5 separate regions of the Homo sapiens genome follow, and regions 2, 3, 4 and 5 are each reported to be linked to region 1. The links are microRNA targets in miRTarBase. Many come from high-throughput screens and were not tested one by one. Region 1 holds a microRNA gene; each other region holds the end of a gene's coding sequence.
What was found. Region 1 holds the annotated microRNA hsa-miR-671-5p (AGGAAGCCCUGGAGGGGCUGGAG, at 2,098-2,120, opposite strand). A microRNA usually pairs through its seed, bases 2 to 8, with sites in the 3' UTR of a target mRNA and lowers its output. Matches are read on the target gene's strand: a 7mer-m8 pairs with bases 2 to 8, a 7mer-A1 pairs with bases 2 to 7 and ends in A, and an 8mer does both.

Region 2: miRTarBase lists ZNF442 as a target of hsa-miR-671-5p. Seed matches in the 3' UTR shown: 8mer at 2,891-2,898.
Region 3: the mRNA of CPNE2 is a reported target of hsa-miR-671-5p. Seed matches in the 3' UTR shown: 7mer-m8 at 4,184-4,190, 7mer-A1 at 4,155-4,161 and 7mer-m8 at 4,139-4,145.
Region 4: miRTarBase lists ASAH2 as a target of hsa-miR-671-5p. The part of its 3' UTR that is shown has no 7-base or 8-base seed match.
Region 5: miRTarBase lists NDUFAF3 as a target of hsa-miR-671-5p. Seed matches in the 3' UTR shown: 7mer-m8 at 514-520.

The regions. Positions count from the first base shown.
Region 1 is chr7:151,235,441-151,240,568 of GRCh38, reverse strand. MIR671 (microRNA 671) reads right to left here and starts at 2,148; the gene lies at 2,031-2,148. It overlaps CHPF2 (chondroitin polymerizing factor 2), which reads right to left. Exons shown (of 4, transcript NM_019015.3): 2 at 4,957-5,128; 3 at 3,979-4,161; 4 at 1,747-3,195. The coding sequence ends at 1,888. It overlaps SMARCD3 (SWI/SNF related BAF chromatin remodeling complex subunit D3), which reads left to right. Exons shown (of 13, transcript NM_001003801.2): 9 at 47-144; 10 at 322-457; 11 at 823-945; 12 at 1,072-1,173; 13 at 1,413-1,789. The coding sequence ends at 1,466. It overlaps LOC124901779 (a long non-coding RNA gene), which reads right to left and starts at 908. Exons shown (of 2, transcript XR_007060596.1): 1 at 817-908; 2 at 1-550. RefSeq lists enhancers at 1-1,018, 4,718-5,128.
Region 2 is chr19:12,344,889-12,350,016 of GRCh38, forward strand. It overlaps ZNF442 (zinc finger protein 442), which reads right to left. Exons shown (of 6, transcript NM_030824.3): 6 at 1,056-5,128. The coding sequence ends at 4,813. It also overlaps a transcript of ZNF563 not described here. Among named protein-coding and RNA genes, the nearest start is that of ZNF563, 14 kb to the left of the region's middle.
Region 3 is chr16:57,147,007-57,152,006 of GRCh38, reverse strand. It overlaps CPNE2 (copine 2), which reads right to left. Exons shown (of 16, transcript NM_152727.6): 16 at 3,638-4,456. The coding sequence ends at 4,349. Among named protein-coding and RNA genes, the nearest start is that of PSME3IP1, 37 kb to the left of the region's middle. RefSeq lists an enhancer at 1,285-2,074 and a silencer at 4,016-4,310.
Region 4 is chr10:50,182,520-50,187,647 of GRCh38, reverse strand. It overlaps ASAH2 (N-acylsphingosine amidohydrolase 2), which reads left to right. Exons shown (of 21, transcript NM_019893.4): 21 at 144-2,787. The coding sequence ends at 333. Among named protein-coding and RNA genes, the nearest start is that of ASAH2, 66 kb to the left of the region's middle.
Region 5 is chr3:49,022,696-49,027,823 of GRCh38, forward strand. NDUFAF3 (NADH:ubiquinone oxidoreductase complex assembly factor 3) reads left to right here. Exons shown (of 5, transcript NM_199069.2): 3 at 7-73; 4 at 181-281; 5 at 361-800. The coding sequence ends at 477. IMPDH2 (inosine monophosphate dehydrogenase 2) reads right to left here. Exons shown (of 14, transcript NM_000884.3): 5 at 5,015-5,128; 6 at 4,265-4,352; 7 at 3,992-4,191; 8 at 3,824-3,914; 9 at 3,629-3,724; 10 at 2,431-2,574; 11 at 2,201-2,345; 12 at 1,964-2,107; 13 at 1,800-1,883; 14 at 1,630-1,709. The coding sequence ends at 1,688. Among named protein-coding and RNA genes, the nearest start is that of NDUFAF3, 3.1 kb to the left of the region's middle. RefSeq lists a silencer at 2,573-2,712.

The DNA of each region.
Region 1 (5,128 bases):
CTCTTCAAGAAGAGTGATCTCTCTCTCCCCAATTGTCCTGCTTCAGATTTTTGATTGTCCCCGGCTGAAGTTTTCTGAGATTCCCCAGCGCCTCACAGCCCTGCTATTGCCCCCTGACCCAATTGTCATCAACCATGTCATCAGGTGAGGTGGCCCCAGCTTGCTTCTCAGACCAGGGAATGATCTCGTTCCTGCCTTCCCTGCCCCTCCCTCTCCTCCCACTCCCATCTCTTCTCCCTCCCTGTTGGATCTGCCCCAGCCCCGGGGCCCTGGGGCCGTATGGGGGCATCGTGGACACGAAGGGCTGGACTTCCCTGGCAGCGTGGACCCTTCAGACCAGAAGAAGACGGCGTGCTATGACATTGACGTGGAGGTGGAGGAGCCATTAAAGGGGCAGATGAGCAGCTTCCTCCTATCCACGGCCAACCAGCAGGAGATCAGTGCTCTGGACAGTAAGGTGGGGCCCAAGCCCAGAGCTGGAGTGGGACATTAACCCAGAGATGATAGAGGAGACTTTTCTGAGACCAGGGTGTGGTTGCAGATGAGCAGTCTGGGTTAAATTAAAAAAAAAAAAAAAAAAGAGACCAGACTCTGGGCCAATGGGACACACATGGCCCGTCCATGCTGCTTGGAGCTGAACCTCATTCCAAGTTTAGTTCTGCCCATCCCCTCCTCCCCTGGGACTTCAGAGAAATCAGGGGCTCTGAGGGGTTGTCCTTCACAGAAGAAACCCCCTCTCCCTCCCCTTCCCACCCGCTTCCTTTCCCCTCGTCTCCCACATCACCAAAGCCAGGTGGAAAGCATCTATCTTTCTACCTGCAGATCCATGAGACGATTGAGTCCATAAACCAGCTCAAGATCCAGAGGGACTTCATGCTAAGCTTCTCCAGAGACCCCAAAGGCTATGTCCAAGACCTGCTCCGCTCCCAGAGCCGGGACCTCAAGGTGAAGAGGGAGACTCAGGGAGTACTGGAGTGGAAGACAAGCACAGCGGGAAAGAGAGTAAACGTTGTACTCCAGGGGCAGGTGAGGGGATTCAGGGCTCAGGGCTCACCCCACGCTCCCTCCCAGGTGATGACAGATGTAGCCGGCAACCCTGAAGAGGAGCGCCGGGCTGAGTTCTACCACCAGCCCTGGTCCCAGGAGGCCGTCAGTCGCTACTTCTACTGCAAGGTATGCAGGGACCCTTGCCCTGAGGCTTCCCCATCCTCAACTCCAAGAGAAACCTCCCTGTTCAGCTTGTGGGCAGCCCTCGCAGCTCCCCACAGTAAAGCTTCACCACGCTGCCTCACCATGCAATGGCCCTCCCTGCTCCCAGATGCTCTTTCAGGGCAGGCGGTGTCAGTAGGTGGGATTGTCCTGATCACTCACCAGAACACTGACACCTGCTCCTGTTCTCACTTCCTCTAAAGATCCAGCAGCGCAGGCAGGAGCTGGAGCAGTCGCTGGTTGTGCGCAACACCTAGGAGCCCAAAAATAAGCAGCACGACGGAACTTTCAGCCGTGTCCCGGGCCCCAGCATTTTGCCCCGGGCTCCAGCATCACTCCTCTGCCACCTTGGGGTGTGGGGCTGGATTAAAAGTCATTCATCTGACAGCAGCCGTGTGGTCATTGGAAACTGGGGAGGGGAGGGGGAGAGAAGGGGAAGGGAAGAAGGTGGGGAGGCAGTGGGTCCCTCGGGACGACTCCCCATTCCCTTCCCTTGGATTCTTCTCCTTACTCAATTTTCCCTAGACCTAAAAACAGTTTGGCAGAAGACATGTTTAATAACATTTTCATATTTAAAAAATACAGCAACAATTCTCTATCTGTCCACCATCTTGCCTTGCCCTTCCTGGGGCTGAGGCAGACAAAGGAAAGGTAATGAGGTTAGGGCCCCCAGGCGGGCTAAGTGCTATTGGCCTGCTCCTGCTCAAAGAGAGCCATAGCCAGCTGGGCACGGCCCCCTAGCCCCTCCAGGTTGCTGAGGCGGCAGCGGTGGTAGAGTTCTTCACTGAGCCGTGGGCTGCAGTCTCGCAGGGAGAACTTCTGCACCAGCCCTGGCTCTACGGCCCGAAAGAGGTGGAGCCCTGAGAACCGGAGGAAAACATCCATCACCTCCAGCCCCTCCAGGGCTTCCTCCTCTTCCTGGCCTGCCAGTTCACCTGCCAGCCGGGCTCGGGCCGCCAGGTAGTCAGCGTTGTAGAAGCAGCCCTCCGCAGAAGCCTGCCGGTCAAATCTCCCCCCTATAGGAGCCCCCCGGGAGGGGTCAGCACCAGGAGGGGAGGGGGGGTCAGGGCCAGCCCCCGGGGGCCCTGGGGGTGATCTCTGTGGTGACAGGGCAGGATTGAACTCCTGGAAATGGACTGGAAAGAAGGCCTGCCAGCCAGAGATGGCATTCATGCGACAGCGGTTGAGGACTTCGGGCCCAGGCCTTGTCCACACGGTGGTAAGGAAGAAGAGAGTGTCCACAGGGTGCTTCTTCGAGACCACGTCCATGAGTCGCACCTGGGAAGGGGCCTCTGCTCGCACAGCGAGCCAGGCCAGCCTCGTCCCAGGGTACCGTCGCTCTAACTCCGCTGCTGCAGCCTTCACCCCAAGAAATGGGTCTGGAGCTCCACGGCCACCTTCTCGTGGCCCGTAGACCAGCAACAGGGTGAGCAATGCATGTTCTCGTGGCTCCAGGACATTGGCTGCAAAGGCCTCGAGGAAAGCCGGGGCTGCAGCAGCTTCAGCCACCAGGAGTGGCAGCACCAGCTGCACTCGGGTGGCCTCAGTGACATAGGGCATAGGTAGGATTTCCACCCGGCTCAGTGGCCGCAGCAGGCTGACCCTGCGAGCCAGGGCCCGCCGGTGCCCACGCTGTGTCACACATTCCAACAGCAGGTCCAGGGTGTACTCCATGCCCCGTGCTGGGTCGAAGCGCCGATAGCCGTTGAGCAGTCGCTGCTTCTGGAAGCGCAGGCGGGGCTGATAGCGCCGATTGAGCTGCTCCAGGGCAGTCTCCAACGCATCACCCACGTCCGCCCTGCTAGCCCCCTGTAGTGGGCACTTGGGAGCCCCATCTGCACAGGAGAAGGTGTGCTGCTCTGTGAAGTAGTCCCAGCCCAGCACCTCAAAGCGAGAGTGTGGTGTGAAAGGAGCAGGGAGCCCAACGGGCCAGCTCAGCCCTGCCTCCCCTTCGGGGGTCAGCACGGTCAGGTTCCGGATCTGAGCCTGGGTTGGAGGGAATGCACCTCACATTAGTGCCAGCTCCAGGATCCTACCCAGCTCCAGCTGCCTGGGCTCTGAGATTCAAACAGCTGAGCTCTGTCCTAACTCCATCAACACTTAGTGAGGGGTCCCTTGCTAATCACTGAATCCCTTGTACGTTATTCTTCACCTCTAAAATGCAGATGGAATAGGAATCATACTCACCTTACACAAATGCCATGAGAAGGAGGTGGAAAATGTGCTTTTTGCACAGGTAAAAGTATCTTGAAATAGAAGCTCAACAGCCTTTCTCTCCTACACCCAAAGGACTCACATCCTCTTCATAATCACACCTTTGTTTTCATCTACACTCCACCTCTGCCAAGCCTGACGTTCAACTTGAGAATTCTCCCTTCTACCCTTGGGCTTTCTTGGGACAGTTCTAGAAGTAAAGAAACTTCAGAGTTTTTGCCTCCTCAGTGGACAGGCACTATTGAGGAGGAGCTAAAACTATTCTGTCTGAACACTGTGCGGAGCTTCCTGATCCTCAGAGTCTACTTGCAAACCCCTTTAGCTGCATTCAAGTTGTGCTGGGAGCTTACCTTATGATTGCTTTGGACCCCCAAAGACCTTTGTCCCTGTAGTTGCTTTAAATTTAAGTATGGTCGGCCTCTTCCTGCCCTGCCATTATACAGGGCCTAGCCCAGCCCCACTGCCAGCTGCTCGTTCATTGCACGCCTGGACATCTCAGGCTCTCTCTGACCCTCTGACTGCGGTCCTCTGCCCACCTGCTCCTCTTCAGCTCACCTGCAGTTGTTCTATTTCACTGTAAGCCCGCTCCAACTCCAGAGCGCTGAAGCGTTTGTGGAGCCGGTACATGAGGGTACCTTCGGAGACAGGGTGCACGGCGAAGGCACTCAGGAAAGCCGAGCTCCCTTCCTTCTCAGGGTCCCTATTTTTGGCCAGTTCAAATGAGCGATACTGCTGCCCCTAGAGGGACAATCAGACCAATCAATGACACACACAAGAGCTGCCAGTCCCAAACCGCCCTTAACCATACTCAGTGTTCACATCTGTTAGCACTGCTGCGTTAGAACAGAGGACAGAAGAGGCACCCTTTCCAGCACCTCGCTTAACCCCAGTTCTTTCACTGCCCACATTTTGGAAAGTAGAAAGCAAGTAGGCAACTAAGGACACTCTCGGCTACTCTCAGTGCATTGCTTACAGGCTAGCCCTGCTCTGCAAGGAGCCATCACAGAAATAACATATTAAAAATAATAATAATGATACTTTCTTCCCCCAAAGATTCCCATTGTTCTTCAAGGGAATGAATGACACAAGCCAGAAAATCCTCCCAATACTTTGGTTTGAGAGGATGAGCCACCTCTGGGTTCTTCCACTCTTCTCCAGCACAAGAAACAGGGCAGCTCTCTGGGCTGGAAAAGTGATCACCTCACTTCTCTGGAGACTAGCCATCTCTAAGACATGCCCACACTGCCATAACTGAAGTGTGGATGTCGGGGGAGGTGTGGAGGGCAGGGGGGCAGGGGAGAAGGACTGCTGAGTAGGAGCACCCTTTGGTCTTGCTTAGGGGTTCCTAACAAGATACTACTTTTGATAGCCCCAGGTTCTCAGATTGCCAAAGGTGAGCAACGGAGGGCCCACAGAGCGGCCAGTGGCCAGGAAGGGGGAACAATGGCCTCTAAGGTGCTGCTGGGAGGAAGGCCAATCACTCATCCCCCACTAGCTTATCAGGGACTGGGACTGACTTGAAAGAGCTGTCACCTGGTGCTGTGAGACACAGCCGACGCCCAGAGAGTCAATGAGGCAGCGTCCAAGCCACTCGTCAGGACGGGCACTGAGAATGTCTCCTCGGCAGCCATCCAGATGTGGCCGCAGACGAAGCAGGAGACTCCGTGACAACAGGTAGCCAAAGCCCCCATGACAGTACCGGGCC
Region 2 (5,128 bases), not on the chromosome of region 1:
AATCAATACACAAAAATCAGCTGCTAACAATGAATAAACAATAGACTAACAATGAATAAACAATCCAAAAAGAAAATTAAGAAAATAATTTTAGTTATAAAAGCATCAAAAAAAGTAAAACACTTAAAAATAAATGAAACCAAGAAATCAGTGATGTGTACATTGAAAACTACAAAACATTCTTGAAGCAAATTAAGGAAGATAAATGAATGGAAAGATATCCCATGTTCATGGATTCCAAGACTTACTATTGCTAAGATTAAAATACTACCAAAATCAATCTACAGAATCAATGTGATCCCTATAGAAATCCTAACAGCTTCTTATACAGAAATAGAAAAGCCTATTCTAAAATTCACTTCAAATCTCTAGGGATCTCTAATACCAAAACAATCTTGAAAAAGAACAATGTTGAAGAATTCACACTGCCTTATTTCAAAACTTACTACAAAGCTACAGTGATCAAAACAGTATGGTACTGGCATAAAGACAAACAGATAGGCCAATGGAATAGAGTAGACAGCCTAGAAATAAATGCTCATATACAGGGTGAAATGATTTTTGACAACAGTGCCAAGACCGTTCTTTGGTAGAAGGACAATCTTTCAAAAAATGGTGTTGGGAAAACTGGATATCTACATGCAAATAATAAAAGTGAACCATCACATTACATCATGTATAAATAGTAACTTATATTTAATCAAAGACCTATACTTAAAAGCTAAAACTATAAAATACTTAGAAGAGCCTGGGTACAGTGGCTCATGGCTGTAATCCCAGCACTTTGGGAGGCCGAGCAGATCACTTGAGGTCAGGAATTGGAGACCAGCCTGGCCAACATGGTTAAACTCTGTCCCTACTAAAAATACAAAATTTAGACAGGCGTGGTGGTGGGTGCCTATAATCCCAGCTACTTGACTACTTGGGAGGCTGAGGCATGAGAATCACTTGAACCTGAGGTGGAGGTTGCAGTAAGTCAAGATCATGCCTCTGCACTCCAGCCTGGGTGACAGAGGGAGAAAAAAAAATTACTTAGCAGAAAACATAGGGGAAAATTTTGTTAAATTTGGCAGTGATTTATTGGATACGACATTTAAGGCACAGACAACCAATAAAAGATAAACTGGACTACATCGAAATTAAAAACTTTTGCGCACCAAAGGACAATCTCAAGATGAAAAGAAAACCTACAGAAAGGGAGAACACATCTGCATATCACATATCAAATAAGGGCTTAATACCCACAGTGTATAAAGAATTCCTACAACTCTCTTCCAAGCACTTGGGAGCTGAAAAAAGAAAGAAATTTTCTAAATATTAAAAACTAAAAATTTTAAATAAGAATTCCTATAACTCAACAACAAAACACAAATGACTCAATTTTAATGAGCAAAGGATTTTAAAACAAACTGGTTCAAAAAATATATAAACAACCAACAAAAACAAAAACCAATGTGCATTATTATTGGTCATTAGGGAAATGCAAATCAAAACCACAATGAAAAAGCAGTACAGAACCATTAATTGGCTATTATGAAAAAAATACGACAACCAGTATATGTGACAATGTGGAAAATAGAAACCCTTATGCATTGCTGGAGAGAATGTAAAACATTGTAGCCACTTTGTAAAGCAATATACCTGTTCCTGAAAAAGGTTTACACCAATTATTCTGTGAACCAGCAATTACACTCCTAGGGATACATATATCCAAAAGAATTGAAAGCAGGGACTCACACAGACATAGACATACCACATCCACAGCAGCCTTATTGATAGCAGTCAAATTATTACTGTGGAAACAACCCATGTTTATCAACATAAAAATGGATAAACAAAGTATGCTTTAACCATACAGTGGAAATTTATTCAGACACAAAAACAATGAGTTCCTGATACATGCTACCACATGGATAAACCTTGAAAACGTTCTAAGTGAAATAAGCCAGACATGGAAGGACACATGCATACTTCCACATATCTCTCTCTCTATGAATAGTCAAATTCACAGACAGAGAAAGTAGAATGGAGATTTTCAGTACTTTGGGATAGGATGGAATAGGTAATTACATGTATGGAACACTAAGTAGATAGAGCAAGTAGCACAGTAACACGTATAAAATGATCCCTTCCTTTGTGTATTCTAGTTTGTACCAGCACTGTAAGAGGCTTCCAGATGAGCAGTTCCAGTGGTTAATGTTGGTAGTTCAAAGGGTAACACTGCCCTCTAGGCAACATCGTGGAGGTCTATTTGAGATATATTTCACTACAAGTTATTCTCATGAATACTTCAATGAAACAGCTCTTATCAAGGCCCCCAGTGACCAAATACTTGCCAAAATCTACAGTCAACCCTTTTTCCTTGTCTTATTCAAATTCTCAGTGACCTGTGACACAGCTGACCACTCTCCCCATATTGAAATACCTTCTTCTGGAGGCTTCCAGGAGAAGAAACCCATGTTTTCCTCCTACTACTTCATTGGGTGTTGGAAACCATTATGGAGTGAGGAAGTCAATGATTTCAGGAGCTTCTCCACTATTGATGAAGTATCAGGAATATCTCAAATGCTGCAAGGGAGGTTGGTGGGGAAAACAATCTATGACATGCTTGAAGACTTTATTGAGGAACACATTGACAGGACAAGAGCACCGCCATCTTTATAACACTCCACCATCCTAAGCTTTAAGTTTCTATTTGGCCACCTGGCCAAAACTGAAAATGTCAGCCCCGCCCATAACTTCAACAGAGAATAACGGCCCTAACTGTAACAGAACAGCCAGGACTTCCCCAACCCCTCCCTAACAGAATTTTGTTTCAAAGCACACTTCTCCACTGGGCCCTTTAAAAAAGCCTCAGGCTGTAAGAGAAGTTTGCACCTGACCCTGCCGCTGGAAGCCCTTCTCAGGTTTACTCCCAATAAAACTGTCTCAACTGTTGAGCCACCTTCTCATCTCTCCTTTCCTTAATCTTTCTATCCCAACACAAATAAGAGAGCATAAATACTAACAAGGAACTCGAAGATATACTGAAATTCTCTGCAGATAATGATGATAATGATGATGCAGAAGACTTAGAAGAGGTAATATCAAAGATGTGACACTTGAAACATGTGCAGCAGTTTTTGGGGCATCTACAGCCTCTGCAAGGTGAAAAGTATTAAAGATTACAATCCTCGCAGGGCACGGTGGCTCATGCCTGTAATCTCAGCACTTTGGGAGGCCGAGGCAGGTGGATCACCTGAGGTCAGGAGTTCGAGACCAGCCTGACCAACATGGTGAAACCCCATCTCTACTAAAAATAAAAATTAGCCAGGCATGGTGGCGAGTGCCTGTAATCCCAGCTACTCTGGAGGCTGAGGCAGGAGAATCGCTTGAATCTGGGAGGTGGAGGTTGCAGTGAGTCGAGATCGCGCCACTGCACTCCAGACTGGGCAATAAGAACGAAACTCAGTCTCAAATGATAAATAAATAAATAAAAATAAAAATAAAATAAAGATTGCCATCCTCAAGTAAGATCCTTCAATGGAACAAAACCTCTGTGTCACCCAAGGGATAACATGCCAACAAACACTGCAAGGATATTTAAAGAAAAAGAACCAGCTTCCTACAACAATGTTTCTAACTAAATATCTGCAAATATGAAGACAGATCCTTCAGTGTGTACACATCTTCAGCCCTCATGCTGAACAGATTCTGACATTAGTATTATTTAGTCTCTTCCAAACTCAGCATCTGCAATCAGAACCTGGTTCATCCAACACAGATGATCATCCTGACATCCTGTCAAGATTCAAGTGAGCCTGATGTCTCACTGTTTATCTACAGTGCCACCCATCTAGTCACCTCAGTGAATCATATTAGGCACCATACTGTAATCAGCATCATCATGATCATGATCATCATCATCATCCTTGGGTTATCAAGCAAGAAGGATCAGGATTTTCATAAGTGTTAACACACGATTCCAGGTCATTAAATAAAAGCAATCTATGATTGTTGAAAAAAAAGAAACTGTAGATTACAGGCTCATGCCTGTAATCCCAGCACTTTGGGAGACCAAGGCAGGCAGATCATCTGAGGTCAGGAGTTCGAGACCAGCCTGACCAATATGATGAAACCCCGTCTCTACTAAAAATACAAAAAAAAAAAAAAAAAAAAAAAAATTAGCTGGGTGTGGTGGCATGCATCTGTAATCCCAGCTACTCAGGAGGCTAAGACAGGAGAATTGCTTGAACCCGGGAGGCAGAGGATGCAGTGAGCTGAGATTGTGCCATTGCCCTCCAGCCTGGGCAATAAGAGTGAAACTCTGTCTTAAAAAAAAAAAAAAGAAAAAAAGAAACTGTAACATTCTAGGTGACATGTACTATGTAGGCAGGCCTGTGATGGTTGGGTCTGTTCTCAACAGCACAGGATTATTTTCATATCACGATTCTCTAAAAAAAATACAATAAAATGACTGTTTACATAGCTTTTACAACACATGAGGTATTTTAGTAACCTACTTTTTATTTTTACTTTTACAAAAGCTTTGGGTTGGTGAAAAATTAAGTAATCTAGGCATGATTTATGGGATGCAGGAGGATGTGGATAGGTTACATGCAAATGTCCTTTTATAAAAGGAACACAGCATCTGTGGATTTAGGTATGCTTAGGGGGTCTGGAACCAATCCCCTGCATATGGTTAGGGGATAACCATATTCAAAAGAAACATCTTAAGGCTTTACCATGTGTTTGCATTCATGAGGCTTATCTCCTATGTGATTTCTTTCACGTTTCTGAAATGAAATAAAATTAATGAATGCTTTTCCACATTTATAGAGTATCTCTCCAGTGAGTCCTTTTATGTCTATGCAAGGAACTGAGAGAACTCAGTGCCTTCCCACATTCCTTACATTCATGCATCTTCTCTCCAGTGTGAGTTTTTTCATGTCCTCGAAGGAAACGAGAACGAGTGAAGGCTTTACCACATTGTTGACATTCATAAGATTTCTTTCCAGTGTGAATTCTTTCATGTCGCAGAAGGCAAGTGAGCCAAGAGAATGCTTTCCTGCATTCCTTACATTCATATGGCTTCTCTCCAGTGTGAATCCTTTCATGGACTTTTAAGTTACCAAAATGACTGAAGGCT
Region 3 (5,000 bases), not on the chromosome of region 1:
CTTACAATTCTCCAGCCATGTGAGGGAGAAAGCTAATAGGAATCCTACTGCCACCTCTATATGGGGAGGATTATCTAGCTTGTGTCACCCACCTGGGTGGAAAATGAGTGTGATATTCAAAGCGTCTATTTTTCCATCTGTAAAAACCAGGGAAACTGATACGACTAGACCGAAAAAGGTGGCTGGCTACCTACTTGTGTATATCTTCCCTGAATCTAAGGATGCAAGAGACTGAGAGCTGGCTCCCCAAATCCAGAGGGGTGGGGCGGAGGGGGGCTTCAGCTTTTTTCAGAATCATTCTGGACTGGGAGTCAGGAGGCCCTAAGTCGGGTGACTTAGTGCCAGGCATCCTCATTTCTTTCACTCTAGCTCCTGAGTTCTTCCTGTCTGGCTTCCTCCTTCCCACCCAAGAGAGGAGCTTCATTTGCCTAAGCCCTTCCCCACTGTTTCTGCTGCTCCTCCCTGGGAACTCAGCCTAGTTCCACCATAGTGGTTATGAGTTAGGAGCCAGCTGTGACTAGCTGTGTCACTTGGGCAAGGTTAGTGTGACCTCTCTGGACCTCACTTTCCTCCTTGGTAAATAGGAATAACACTACCAATTTCCTAGGGAGATAGAGATAACCTAGATTAGGTGCTAGGTGTGCGGTATCAGACACACAGTGTTTAGTAAATGGTGGCCACCCTCAGTGCTGTTACCATCAGCCCTCCCTTTTTTCTGGGTGGCATAGCCAGAGCTTCCATTATTGGTGATTTATGCAGGTTTATCCATTCCACTGGCATTCCTCAGTTGCAGCTAGAACACTGGCATGGGTGAAGGGTCAGATCTGGTCGTCAAAGCTCCAACCACCAGCTTTTGCTGTATGCTTCCCTTTTGGCTAAATGTTAATTGCTTAGGCACACCCGGTTCCTTGGCGCGGTTGTCCTAGCCGTGGGTATATGGCTCAGCTGTCATCTTAGGCCCCTCCAGAAAAACAGCTCCATGGCAGTGCAGATTATCTGGACTTGGGTATTTTCTTGGTTTTCTGGCATGCCCAACCCACTTAGGCGTCACAGGATGGAATGCAAGTTCTGCTCAGTGGGAGGCTAGGATCTTGGCAACACTTTTGTAGTCACAGGTTGAACACAGAAACCAGTCACACATTTGTGCTTTAGTGACACTGGCAAGGGCTGACATTTTGCTCCCTTACCTGCTGGAGCAGCGGTTCGGAGAGAGAGGGAGCCTCACAGTGGTAACGGCAGAACATGGCCCCAGCATCAGAGCTTTGCAGAGGGGAGAGGCAGAAAAACAGAGGGACAGCCATTCACCTGTGCTTTATACTGCAAGCTGGTCTTCCATTACTATTTTAGTAATAGTCATGTACATCATTGCTTGTGTTGGTTTCTTTCATTCAGTGTATACTGAGAGCTTGCTATGTATATGCCAGGGTGTTAGGGGCATTTGTGCGTTATTTTTGTGGACTCTAGTGTCTTTCATTCTGGGGGAAAAAAGTCCTGTGAAGCAGCCCTTCTCTATATTTTACAGGAAATCAGAATTCCTAGGAGCTCAATGGCTTGTCTGAGGTTGCATAGCTAAGTGACAGAACCAGAATTTTCATTTGAACCAGAATTTTCATTTGAGCCTTTAAGTCTGGCTTTCTGTGGTTTCAGTGAAACTTCTAAACAAATGCCAGTGCCCAGGCCTCCGTGGAAGGGATTCAAGGGTAAAGGAGTCTTTCTGGCTGGATTTCCAAGTTCACTTTTCAGCCTGCTATCCATGTGCAGGAACCAAGTAGCAGCACCAAAGCTTGGATTTTTACAAAAGTGATTTGGAGCCAGGCGCCGTGACTCATGTCTGTAATCCTAGCACTTTGGGAGGCCGAGGCAGGTGGATCACTTGAGGTCAGGAGTTCGAGAACAGCCTGACCAACATGGTGAAATTCCATCTCTACTAAAAATACAAAAATTAGTCAGGCAAGGTGGCGTGCGCCTGTAGTTCCAACTACTTGGGAGGCTGAGGCAGGAGAATCACTTGAACCCAGGAGGCGGAGGCTAAGTGAGCTGAGATTGTGCCACTGCACTCCAGCCTGGGTGACAGAGTGAGACTCTGTCTCAAAAATAAGAAAATAAAAAGTGATTTGGTTGGCCTTGTCAAGAGTTTAGACAAACTCTTTAGACAAGAGTTTAGACAAGTTTGTGAACTGAAGCCAGCTAGGAATAAAGGGCCTGCTTGACTTACCCACCGTTAGGCAGAGAAGGGGCAGACAGCAGAGATGGCTGGATCTGCCCCCACATGAAGCCTGGATGTGGGGACCACGGCCACCACACCTGAGGAAGTGATCTGAGAGTGGGAGCATGTGGGACAGACCCCCACTGCAAGGCCAGGGCTTCGCCTTCACGTGGCCCAGTGGACGGCAGTCTCCCTAGTTTCACCAAGCTCGTAAGCCGCTCCCACGGGAAGGTGTAAGGGAGGAGTGGGATTCCACCCATGTTGCTGGCCTGGGGGCCAGTGCACTGGAGTTTTCCAAAGGACAGTCTGCAAATCAGAGCTCTGTGCAGTCCTGCGGCCCTCTTGAGAGAAGTGTCCCTAACAGATCCTTCAGCTGACTCTTGGTGTCCACAGAATCAGCAGCGGCACCAGAAGCTTAGGATGAAGGTATCCCTTACTTGCTCCCACCAGAAAAACTCTGGCTGGAGCTTACCAGGCACTAAGAGGTGGGAATCTACCTGCTGCGGTGCCCAATCCTAGCAGGCCCTAGTAAGAATTACTGGCCAGAAGAGTAGATGGGGACAAATGACTTTCCAATTTCAGTGGCACAGAGTGACAAATTCATTAGCAGCTTGAGCAGAAGAACCCCATCCAGAGCCAAGGGAAGGCATTCAATGCAGTGGAGCAAGTGTGGGCCATGAGGTAGCCAGACTTGGGTATGAGGCCTGGCTCTGCCTCTAGTAGACTTGATTCGCTTCTCTGCTTGTCTCCTCATCTCTGAAATGGTCACCGTCAGGAGCTATTGGAAGGGTTCACCAAGATAGTGCTTGCAGCCTGGGCAACATGGCGAAACTCCATGTCTACAAAAATTAGCTGGGCGTGGGGGTGCATGCCTGTGTTCCAGCTACTCGTGAGGCTGAGGTGGGAGGACTGCTTGAGCCCACAAGGTTGAGGCTGCAGTGAGCCGAGATCACACCACTGCACTCCAGCCTGGGTGGGACAGAGTGAGACCCTGTCTCAGAAAAAGTGCCTGCAAAATACTGAACACGGAGCTGGAAACAAAGTGCTTAATAGGAGGGTTAGCTGTTACTGGTTACACGGAAGCCCGTGTCCAGGGGGCTTACCTGGAGGTCCAAGCGGGAGTCAGGTGGATAAAGGAGAAAGAGGTGTTATGTGGAATAAAGGAGGGACCTGGGAGCGGGGCTGAACTTTCAGAGAGGGGTCCTCTGGCTGGTTTCATAAAACTGGGCCTGAGCCTAGAGAGGGGGATGTGGAAGAAACAGCAGGGTCAGAAGCAGCCCCATTTTGGGTCCTGAGGCCAGAGAGGCTTTCACAGACCTCTAGGTGGCCAACCCAAACACCCGGGAGACCCAAGGAGGAGCAGATGGGTGGCTGGGACTGCTGTCCAGTTGTGGGGTAGGGATATGTCAGAAACTGGTATGGGCCTGCACATTCATTCTATTCATCCATGAATATTTATTGAGTTTGTACAATGTGCCAGGTTCTGTGCCAGTTTAACAGGTTATCACTGTTAACTGGCAGTGATTTAACAGGTTATCATCTGGAATGCATGTCCCCATGCAGAAGTGACTACACCAACTTATTAGACTTGTGGGGTGGATTTTCATTTTCCATTTCCTTTCTTAGATCAGTGAGCCCGTCAGGTCCCTGCTGAGGAAGGAGCTGACGCAGGGACGTCTGAAACTCATTTGTTACCCTGAGCATATAACAAATAGAACACAGTCACAGTATTAAAAAAACAGCAGGAATTAATTAGGTGCAGGCTACGACACGTATGCACCAAGGACATGTTTCTTTCATCAGAGTCTGCAGCTAGTTACTTGGAAAAAGCCAGTTATGATTGTAAAAATTTTATTCTCAATAACAATTCCACTAAAATTATACAAAGTACATTCAATACTTAAGAATGGCAAAGGTGGGGAGAGGAGGAGAGGAAGCCAGTTTGGCCTGGAAGCATCAACAGTTGACTCCAACAAAGGAAGCCCAGCTGGGCTGGAGGAAGTTGGGGGTGGAGGTCCGGTTGTAAAAAATAAAAAAGGGGATCGGTAAAAAAAGGCCACCCACAAGGAAGCAGAGTGAGCGTGCATGTTCCTGGGGGAGGGCAGGAGGCTCAGCTGACATGCTGCTGCTGGGCACTGGAGCTCAGGCGGGCTCCGAGTTGGTGGGGGGCAGGTTTTTATGCTTGAAATACTGCACAACTTGTTGGGGCAGCTCCGCCAGCACAGCTTTGGCCAAGGTCTCTTTTGCTGCCTGCAGGGTGGAGGAGGGTGGGGTGGGGAAGAGAGAGAATAAGGATTAATGACCGGAAGTTGTGAGCGGCACTATGCCCAGAGGGCTGCTACAGCAGGTGTCCATTGAGGACAAAATTAGGGCTGCGGGCCAGGGCTGTCTGCAAGTGGCATCCCTCATCTCAGCCCAGGCCAGGCCTGAAATTCCCCCTGATCGCAGTGCCTTCCTTTAGGTTAGGTGTAAGTGTTACCTGGAGCACTTGAGATGCTTGGGAGTAACGGGTTAGGATGACTCCGTCTGCGGGAAGCACCTATGTGTCCGGCAAACATCTCCTGAGCACCTTCTTGGCGGGAATAAATGGGCCTGACAGTATGGTTCACTAGTGAACAGCCAGCCACAGGCCAGGCACATGGAGGTACTCGGTCACCGACCTGTGCATGAAGGGGTGACCGATGCCCAGGGTTTGTCCTTAGGAAGCGAATGCTCCAGAGGAAGGAGTAGAACCATCGCAGGCAACCCCAGAGGATGCTGGGAAGAGAGGTGAGGGCCACTGGGTGCAAACCAG
Region 4 (5,128 bases), not on the chromosome of region 1:
TGTATCTTCAATGTCTTGATAGTGCCTTGCTCATTGTAGGTATTCTCTGAATATTCATTAAATGAATAATCATGTATTTTTCTAATTAAACATTTTTAAGAGTAAAATTGAGTTTTGCTTGCTTGTTTGTTTTTTATCAACAGTTTTTATTGGCACAAGGGACTCCTGGGTCTGAGTAATGCAACAGTGGAATGGCATATTCCAGACACTGCCCAGCCTGGAATCTACAGAATAAGATATTTTGGACACAATCGGAAGCAGGACATTCTGAAGCCTGCTGTCATACTTTCATTTGAAGGCACTTCCCCGGCTTTTGAAGTTGTAACTATTTAGTGAAAAGTTGATAGATCATTTAAAGAACAGCTTTACTCTCTACACATTATATAAGTGATTTCAAATGAATGTGAACTAGTGAACTACCATGTTGACTTCTATAATCGTCCCTGTTTGGGGACAGATAGTTTACTGCTAATGGGGTGGAGGGGTGTGTGTGTGTGTGTGTGTGTGTGTGTGTGTGTGTGTGTGTGTGAGAGAGAGAGAGAGAGAGAGAGAGAGAGAGAGAGGTTTGTCCCATATATCTTGCTCCAGCAGCCATATATCTTGTGGTCTACAGCCTAAAGCATGATTTCCCTTGAAGTCTTGGGGTTGTTTAAAGGAGAGTCCCTTCAATATAAAACCTCTGAAATATTAGTGAGAATGGCTCACTAATGTGAACAATGTTTAAATTATTTATTTATATATAGAATTACTGAATATTAGTACTGGGAAAATTTATAGAAATCATCTAGTCTTACCCTTCATCTTACATATAAGAAAAATGGTCTTTTCTTCTAATCACATTTACAAAATATGATATAAACCTTGACCATGAATGTATGAGCCTAATTAGAGAAACAGAAAATCAGCATGTCAGTTTTCCTTCATTCAAAATAACATAGTCTTTCTAAGCAGTCATTCTGGAGTTAACATGCCTAGTTCAGAGCCGCTGTGGATGCTCAAATCATTTCTGGAATTGCCTTCAGGACACAATTATGAGAAAGTCAGACTTCCAATATTTTGATCATGCCTTGTGTTTTCCTAAGTGTCCTTATCCCACTGGATTGTGTCTCTTACTCCCAAGACTTATTCCAAATGATTTTTTGACTCTTTTCATTAATCAAATTCACCCCAAACCAGAAAGTTTTGCCATTAGTGTAGATATTAAAAATATTACTGGCTGGGAAAGCACTCCTCAAAGCAGAGGTTCTAAATTAATTTATCTGTTCTTTTACCATTTGCTCACTCACTCACTCATGGACCCATTCAATCATAGAATATTTAAGATTTATATGCCCAGAATTATAATAGTGCCTAGGCCTTGATAATTAGTGAATTTGTACTTGGGGTGAATGTGTAAGTGTCAAAAGGTAACTATTATGAAGGAGAAAATAATCGATTTAATATGTAAATTCTGGGGAAGCATTTAAAAAATCAGTAATCTTCAAGTTATATCTTGTGTATCATCTGTGTTGGATACTCTAATTTGGGGGGAAAGAGGCTCCAGACAGTTTGCTAAATACTATTTTGAAAGTTATTTTTGGGCATTGTAAAATACCTTGCTTCATACCCCAAAGAATAAGATATGACAGTCTGACATCGATTGTCTGAAAGTACTAATTGCATTTAAAATTCTTTAAGTTAACTACAACCTCCCAGACTGCAAAGCAAATTTCCAAACCCCAGGTCATACTTTTGTATGTATGTAAAAGCTTTAGCATTTTAGGGAAAAAAATCAATCTGTATTTTAAAAATAAACTTTGAGGTTTGAAAATAATAACAATATTCATAATGGTAGTATTAACATCTATTATGTATAACTTAATCTCAACATAATTTATTGAATTAGAATGAACCTGGAACACTTTTTGATGAATTGGTATCCTAGAGGCTGTTTCCTTGGGCATTAACTGCTGGAGGATTAGGTAATCAGGGATTCCAAGTGTTGTGATCTTTTTTCTGATGATGCCACAGTCTTCAGTGTAAAAGTTCAGAAGCCTAAAAGAACAAGTGATCCTGAAAGTAGCTGATTCCAGACAAGAAAATTATATTAGAACTTATGATATGGTTTTTTAAAGTATTTGTTATTACTCAGAAGGGTTCATGAATCAGTTTCCACTACCTCTATTCCTTCTATTGAAGCTTTCCTCAAATCTACTTGTGATTCCTGATAGCTCACTGGCAACTGTACCAAGGTGGCCACTGTATCATCTACTGATCCTACTGCACCTAGCACTCTTGGCTCCAGATAACGCACAGAAACCTATTTTCTCACCAGCTGTCATTTCTTCTAGGGCATGCAGTTCTATGTTCGCAGTTCATGTGTAAAAATAAAACCAAATTCCTGGATTATCAATATCAGTTCTTTACCTGTGCATAAAAGAATATCATGAAGTAATTGAACTTATCTGTTGATATAAAAACACAGATCCAATTCATGTCTGTGGATGCTGCAGGGACTGGCTCACTGGAGCCAAACCATGTGGCAGAAACTCCTGAAATTGGTGGAAAAAGTGGAATATGGCAGATTGGGTAGGTAGGAGAACAATTTTGGAGATTTTGTTTCTCATGTTAAAATGTCTGCATTTTATTTGCTGTACCCTGCCTACTCTGGTTTTAAGGATTTTTTGACTTCTTTGAAAAGCACTGAATAATCTCTTTTCCAGGTCTAGATTTTTTGATGAGTACTGTGTAAAATTGTCAATATTCAATGGATTATTTAATAATAAATTAAGAATTACACTCATAAAAGTATTGTCTAATGAAAGGTAATGTAGACAAACGAACACTTTTTTAAAAAAAGAGGTGGAACAAAAGGTGGTAGATTACATGTAAGTTAGGTTGGAAAGTGATACAAATGACTTGTAAATAACCACTGAAGCACAAGGGAACCACTTCTTTATCAGTTCCTTTCTAACTTCTGAAGATGTACTGCTGGTAAAACACATGTATGGTTGACAATTCTTTTATTTTCTTTCTCTTTTTTACTAGTTGGGCAAAAAAATTTCCTAGGCAGGTAGCTAACTATGAAATTGTTTCATGCGCTAATTCTGAACAAAAAGACCAAGAATGAATTTACTTATGAATGTCCTTTTCTAATGTGCCCTCTTATGCTTCTCCTCCAATGTAAGCAAGCTTACTGTCTTTTTCTAAGATTAGCGCATGGATTCTATCTTTAGCCAAAAGGTTTCATCACTAGATGAACTTCTCATGTGTTTAGTTCTTCCAAATGATGCTCTTGCTTCCTGGGTATCCAACCTGACTTGCTGGTTTATATTGGCTTCCAAAATTTTAGAGTGATAGGGTATCGGAGAGGGAAATTTGCACATTCCTTATGCAATTTGTTAGTATGCATTCAGCTGTAACTCAGAAAATATTCCTGATCAACATCCATCCAAACACTAAAGACATTTATAACCTCACATAGCAGTAAGTCTTGAAGTGATAAATTCAGGTTTGGTGCAGCCACTCAGTGGCTCTTCTTAATATATTGACTTAATTCTTAGGCTTATCCTCTTAGCTAAAAGATCGCTACCTCAAGTCTACATATAATTGAATGCAGCAGCAAAATGGGAGGAGAGAGTTCTCTTTATAATCCCCTTTTAGAAGGTGGAAAATAGTAAGAACACAAGTTGAATTTTCCTTCTATTTCTTTGTTCAGAACTGTGCCACACAGCTACTCTTACCTGCAAGGGAAGCTGGAAAAAAGAATATTTAGTATTTTGTGCTTCTAGAGAGTGAGGCAAGTTCTGATAGTAAGAAAGAAGAGATAGCCGAAGTAGCTGTCATAAAATTATGTTAGTCAAGACAGATTAGTTATGCTACAACATTAGAGATTTATTTCTTGATCTCATGACCTGTCCATTGGGGTTAGCTGAAGGATCTGTTCCACATCTCATTTGAGTTCACAGGCTGACAGAGACTTCCATTCTAAACATTCTTCCATTGTGAGGGAACAGGAACAGGTGCTTCCATGATTAGGGGGAAGGGACAGGGAGAATCATGCAATAGTTCGTGAAGCTTCCACATTACTGTGCATTTTTCACTGGGCAGGTGACAGAACCAGGATATTTGCAAGCAGCCCTAAAGGTTACCACAGTGGGCAAGCAATAATATCTGCATATCCAAATTAACTGCTCTTTGAAATAATTAGAACTCGTTTTACTCTAGAAAATATATTTTGGAAAAGAACACACATTGGAATAATGACGAAAAAAATTGCTTTCTGTATTGCAAAATGTATACGTTACTTTAACAGATTTATATCAAGCACCTATATACTTTATGGCAGAAATTATGCTAAATCCTAAGAATGAAACAATAATGAAGGCAAAGCTATTCCCTGCCAAAAGGAACTTAGCGTTTAACGAACAAAGCAAACAGATGAACAGGTAATTACTGTACAGAGTGACCCATATTGTTATTGTTCAGGGAATTAGAGAGGGCACCTAATATGGTCTTGGGGATGTTTCAGTAAGTTTCCTGGAAGAAATAACATATAAGCTAAGACTTAAAAGACATGTAGAAATTAGCTAGAAGAAAGGCAATGGTGTGTGCATGTATGTGTGTATTAGTGTGTGTTTGTGTTTGTGTACTGGGCAAATAGACTATTCCATGTAGAGGGAATATTGAGTACTTTATCAAGACTATAGTTAGAGTATAAGGAAAGAGTTGACAGTGAGGCAGCACCAAACTTTACCTTCATAAATAGCAATTTGGTTTTATACTTGTATTAGCATTTTTCCCCCTTGAGACTCTTCCCCTATAACATCAATGTCCTTGAATGTATTTGCCATTTGCTCTAATAATAAAATACACTTTCTATAACCAAAAACTTACCTTGACTCCCAGTTTCCAGTACCACTTAGTGTCATCCTTCTGTCTTCAGGGCTATAAACCTGTCCATAGACAAACCCATGGAATTGAATTTATTAAGAGACTTCTTTTGCTTATGTCAATTTCATATTTCCAAATCTATGATTTCTTTTGTTTTTTGTTTGTTTGTTTGTTGTACCTGCTAAAATGGCAAGTATAACCAATGAAGACCATTCTCTCCCTTTAGATAGGGTTCAGAGTTCCAGCCTTACGAGTT
Region 5 (5,128 bases), not on the chromosome of region 1:
GCACAGGTGGGATCCCACCAGGACATCACCGAAGACAGCTTTTCCCTCTTCTGGTTGCTGGAGCCCCGGATAGGTACTGGGGAAGGGGAGGGAGAACAGAGGTGTTCTGGGCCCCAGAAGGCGACCCCCACTGCAGCCTCTCAACAGAACTGTAGACTAGCCACACCCACCCTTCCCTAGAGATCGTGGTGGTGGGGACTGGAGACCGGACCGAGAGGCTGCAGTCCCAGGTGCTTCAAGCCATGAGGCAGCGGGGCATTGCTGTGGAAGTGCAGGACACGGTGAGTCCCGGGACTGGGGCATGCTGCGGGGAGCACAGGCCTGGCGCTAGACAGGCTGATGCTGGCCTTTTCTTTGCAGCCCAATGCCTGTGCCACCTTCAACTTCCTGTGTCATGAAGGCCGAGTAACTGGAGCTGCTCTCATCCCTCCACCAGGAGGGACTTCACTTACATCTTTGGGCCAAGCTGCTCAATGAACCGCCAGGAACTGACCTGCTGACTGCACTCTGCCAGGCTTCCCAATGCTTTCACTCTTATCTACCCTTTGGCACTTATCTTGCTTATCAACATAATAATTTATACACTTCTCCCATTTTGTATCAGGTGTGTTGCTGGCCAGGAGCTGATGGCTCACTGGGCTCTTGGAGGGGAATGTGAAGAAACCAAGGAGTCACTTTTTCATCTAGATTACTTAGGATTCCTTGACTTTTCAGAAGTCGGGAAGCAGTATGTTTGCCTGTTGTAGACCTACTTGCTCACATGCAGATTTGAGAGGACCTCAACGGCTTTTCTCACAAAATCGCTGATTGTTTTTCTTTTTTTGAGATGGAGTCTCGCTGTCGCCCGGGCTGCAGTGCAGTGGCGTGATCTTGGCCCACTACAACCTCCACCTCCTGGATTCAAGCGATTCTCGTGCCTCAGCCTCCTGAGTAGCTGGAATTAGAGGCCCCTACCACTACACTGGGCTTTTTTTTTTTTTTTTTTTTCTGGAGATGAGTCTTGCTCTTTCGCCAGGGTGGAGTGCAGTGGCGCAGTCTCAGCTCACTGCAACCTCCGCCTCCTGGGTTTCAGTGATTCTCCTGCCTCAGCCTCCTGAGTAGCTGGGACTAGAGGTATGCATCACCACGCCCAGCTAATTTTTGTATTTTTAGTAGAGAAAGGGTTCACCATGTTGGCCAGGATGGTCTCGAACTCCTGATCTCAAGTGATCCACCTGCCTCCCAAAGTGCTGGGATTACAGACGTGAGCCAATGTGCCTGGCCGAGAGAGATTCAAGTTAGGGAATATATATGTGTGTTGACCTGGTCCTATATGGCCAAGCTATGGGCTAGCAGGATGCCCTGTGTATGCCAGTCCCAGGGCTTGTTCTTTGACCCCTTGGGAGCCAGAGTCAGATGCTCAGTGTGAGACTGAAACCCCAAGAGCCATAGCTATAGCTATAGTCAGCTGTTTTGTGAGCAGCCTCAGGAGGAACTTTTTGGACCTGGAACTACCCGCTTCCAGGTCCATGGAGCACATTTATCTCGGGGCCTGAGGCTCCCCCTGGAAATGAGGGTGCTGTTTTTGTGTGCATCTGTGGTAGTGGCAGCTACAGAGCCCCACCTGTCTGTTGAAAGATCAGGCATCACTTTTTTCTTTCTAAACTTTTATTGAAAAAAAAACCGAGGAGGTGTGCTGGATCCCTTTTCAGAAAAGCCGCTTCTCATACCTGCAGGCAGAAGGACCACCTGTGAGGTGAGGGCAGGAGAAAGGAGGCATGAGGTATGGCAGAGGCCCCACCAAGGACAGGGTGACTTACGAATGGAGGCTATGGACGCCACCTTCCACCTGGGCTGAGGACGTTCTCTTCTCAAACTTAAGCTCCCCAGAGTACATCATGGCTCTGAAGAAGGGCAGAGGTCAAATGTGGGTAGCTGGCCCTGGACCAGCCCCTCTACCCATGTCCCAGCTCCCCAAGCTCACCGGACTTGGGTCAAGCTCTTGGCACCAATGTCCTGGCATGAGTGTTGGATGCCAGCAATCAGGTAAGGGACAAATTTGTGGATTGACCCTTTGTCCTGCACAGCACCAGACACTCCCTGGGCCACTTTGATTTTGTCAGCTTCACTGCAGGGAGAGGCAGAGACACGGGCAAGGTCACAGCAGAGATGAGACTGTCAGTGCAGGATTAGGGTGGGGTAACTGGCTTGCCTGTCCCACCTGAAATATCTGTTCTGGCTGCTGAGGTGCTTGTCCATGGCATCGAGAGAACCCATACCGCGATATTTCTTTAGCCGGATCCCATCGGAAAAGAAGTATTCACCAGGGGCCTCAGTGGTGGCAGCCAGGAGAGAGCCCATCATGACTGCGGACAGATGGAGTGCTTGGGTTAGAGCCTAAGCAGCACTAGGGAGGGGGTCCCACTGGCCTTCACGGGTACTGGGCCTCACCTGTGGAGGCCCCAAGGGCCAAGGCTTTCGCAATATGACCCACATTTTGGATTCCTCCATCAGCAATGACCGGAACACCAAAGCGCCGTGCATACTCTGACACCTTGTACACTGCTGTTGCTTGGGGCCGCCCACAGGCCAGCACTGTTGAGATGGAGGAACACATGGGTGGATAGGGTTAATGGGGACGGGCAGTGGACCCTGTGGCCATATTTAGGACCCAGGAGCTTTTGGCTACATCTGCATCAGGACTGCAGCTTGGCTGAGGAACAGACGTGTCTGGGATGGCTGCTGCCACATCTGCCTTAAATAGTACAAACAGCTGTGCTGACCTCTACTCACCCCCACATGTGCACGTGCATGTGTGCAGTGCCCAGGGCAGCCTCAGGCACATGCAGTCTTAGCAGCCGGGAAAGCCCCCGTCCAGCTGGTATCAGATGGGGCAGGAGTCACCGTGCAGTTAGTCCCCAGAGGCACTGAGGTCAGGCCCAGCCCTTCCTCCCTGAATGGTGGGCAGCTCAGGCAAGATAAGGGCAGTGGTTGTGTAGGAGAGCAGGCTGTGGTTGTGTGGAGCAGGCAGTGGTTGTGTGGGAGAGCAAGGACCACACAAAGGAGTTGGTCCCTGAACTATGCCTACTGCAGAAGATGTGGGCAGAAAAGGTCCTGCCTAGGGAAGAAGGTCCTGCCCTATCAGCACCCCAGAAGGAAGAGGGAGCTATGTTCTTGAGCACCACCCCCAAACCATGGTCTGTGTATCAGTTGGCCTTGCCCACCCATCAGCACCACAAACCCCGGGAGCTACAGCTACGTCAACCAAGCAGCCGGGCAGTGGGCAGCTGGGCCGGGCCAGTGGGCCGGGCTGGACTTACTATAGCAACCCGTGACAGTAGAAGGGCATTTGGGGCTGTGGGACTTTATGTCTGGAGGGATCTTGGGAGCCACTAAATAAAACAAACAGACCAGAGTTTAGAGAAGGTGCAGAGCAGGAGCAAGAAGGCCAGGCTAGGCAAGGGAGTGGCAGGTGATGGATGACAAGACCTTGTCTTGCTTCCAGCCATGTCACCCATCCAAGAGGCCAATTTGGCCCCAGGGTTGCCCCTATTGGAGGGCTCTATTGTCCCCATAAGAGTGCTTGGTTCCAAGGTATGTGGGGCCTGAAACTGGGGTCTCTGTGGGCCCTATCAAAGTATATTCTTACCTTCCTGCGTAATGCAGATGGAGCCACTTCCCATGCCCACCCGCAGGGCATCCACACCTGCATCAATGAGGTTCTTGGCCTGGGCAGCAGTGACCACTATGGTGAAGGAAAGGAAAATGCTCATGTGAAGGTTAAGGTGGGAGCCCAGCTTACCCACTCCCACCACACATCCTTCAGGGCACAATCTTGCCTTACCATTGCCTCCAATGACTTGGAGATTAGGGTATTTGTCTTTGATGTACTTGATCATATTGATCTGGAAGATGGAATTTCCCTGGGAAGAGTCCTAGGACAAGAAGTAAGTCTCAGACTGTGATGTGGCAGCTGCCCCTATTGCCCCAACCCACCTGTGTAGCAGCTCACCAAAACCACTACATCCACACCAGCCTGGGCGAGCAAGTCCAGCCTATACTTGTCATCCTCATGAGTGCCAATGGCTGCCCCACACAGCAGCTGTTTCTTGGCATCTTTGGAGGCTAGTGGGTAGTCCCGATTCTTCTTCAGGTCTGTCCGGGCAATGATGGCCACAAGCTCATCATCTTCATTTACAATGGGCAACTTTCCTGTGGTCAGGGCAGGACATGAATCAGGACCCTAGGCATTAGTTCCAGGCCCTTTCCCAGCTCTAGGACTTACCCTTCTTGCTGCGCTGCAGAATTTCATTTGCCTCCTTCAGTGTGATGCCTGCAGGGGCTACCACCAAGTCTTCCCTCTTTGTCATTATCTACGTGGGAGGTGAGATGTGAAGAAGGGCCAGTCATCGACTATGACCAGTTAACTCTTTTCTTTCCTTCCCAAGTAGCTGAGCTCAGAGGCACGCGCCACCACACCCAACTAATTTTTTGTATTTTTAGTAGAGACGGGGTTTCACCATGTTGGCCAGGCTGGTCTCAAACTCCTAACCTCATGATTTGCCTGCCTCAGTCTCCCAAAGTACTGAGATTACAGGGGTGAAGTTCTATGGACCACCACGTTCATACATTCACACCCAAAACACCCTTCCTCAAGGGATCCCAATAATTCTTAGCAGTATGGTATTGAGTGAGGGATGAGTAGAAAGGACAACATGGCACAGGGAGCACCCTCTTACACTATGGAATAAGGAGGACAACACAGGAACAATGGCAAGAAAATCAGGGCAGACCTCAAGCACTGCCCCTACCTTAGGGGTTTAAAAGAACAAAGCATGAATACTAGCAAGCATTTGGGCAGTTTGAAAGCCTCTGGTGGGGAAAGGATGCAGGAACCCAATAAAGGAGTCAGAAACTTGGTTTGACACTCCTTTCCCAGAGAGAAGAGGCTATCAGAGATGTCTTAGACAACAGAAGCCCCTTGTCTTCAACCTGGGCTGCTAGAGCTTGGATCTACTCTGCCAGTGGCACCCACCTCTTCCAAGAAACAGTCATGTTCCTCCTCTTTGAGAAAATCAATGTCCCTGGAGGAGATGATGCCCACCAAGCGGCTCCCCATCCGGCCTGTGTCTGTGATTGGGATACCGCA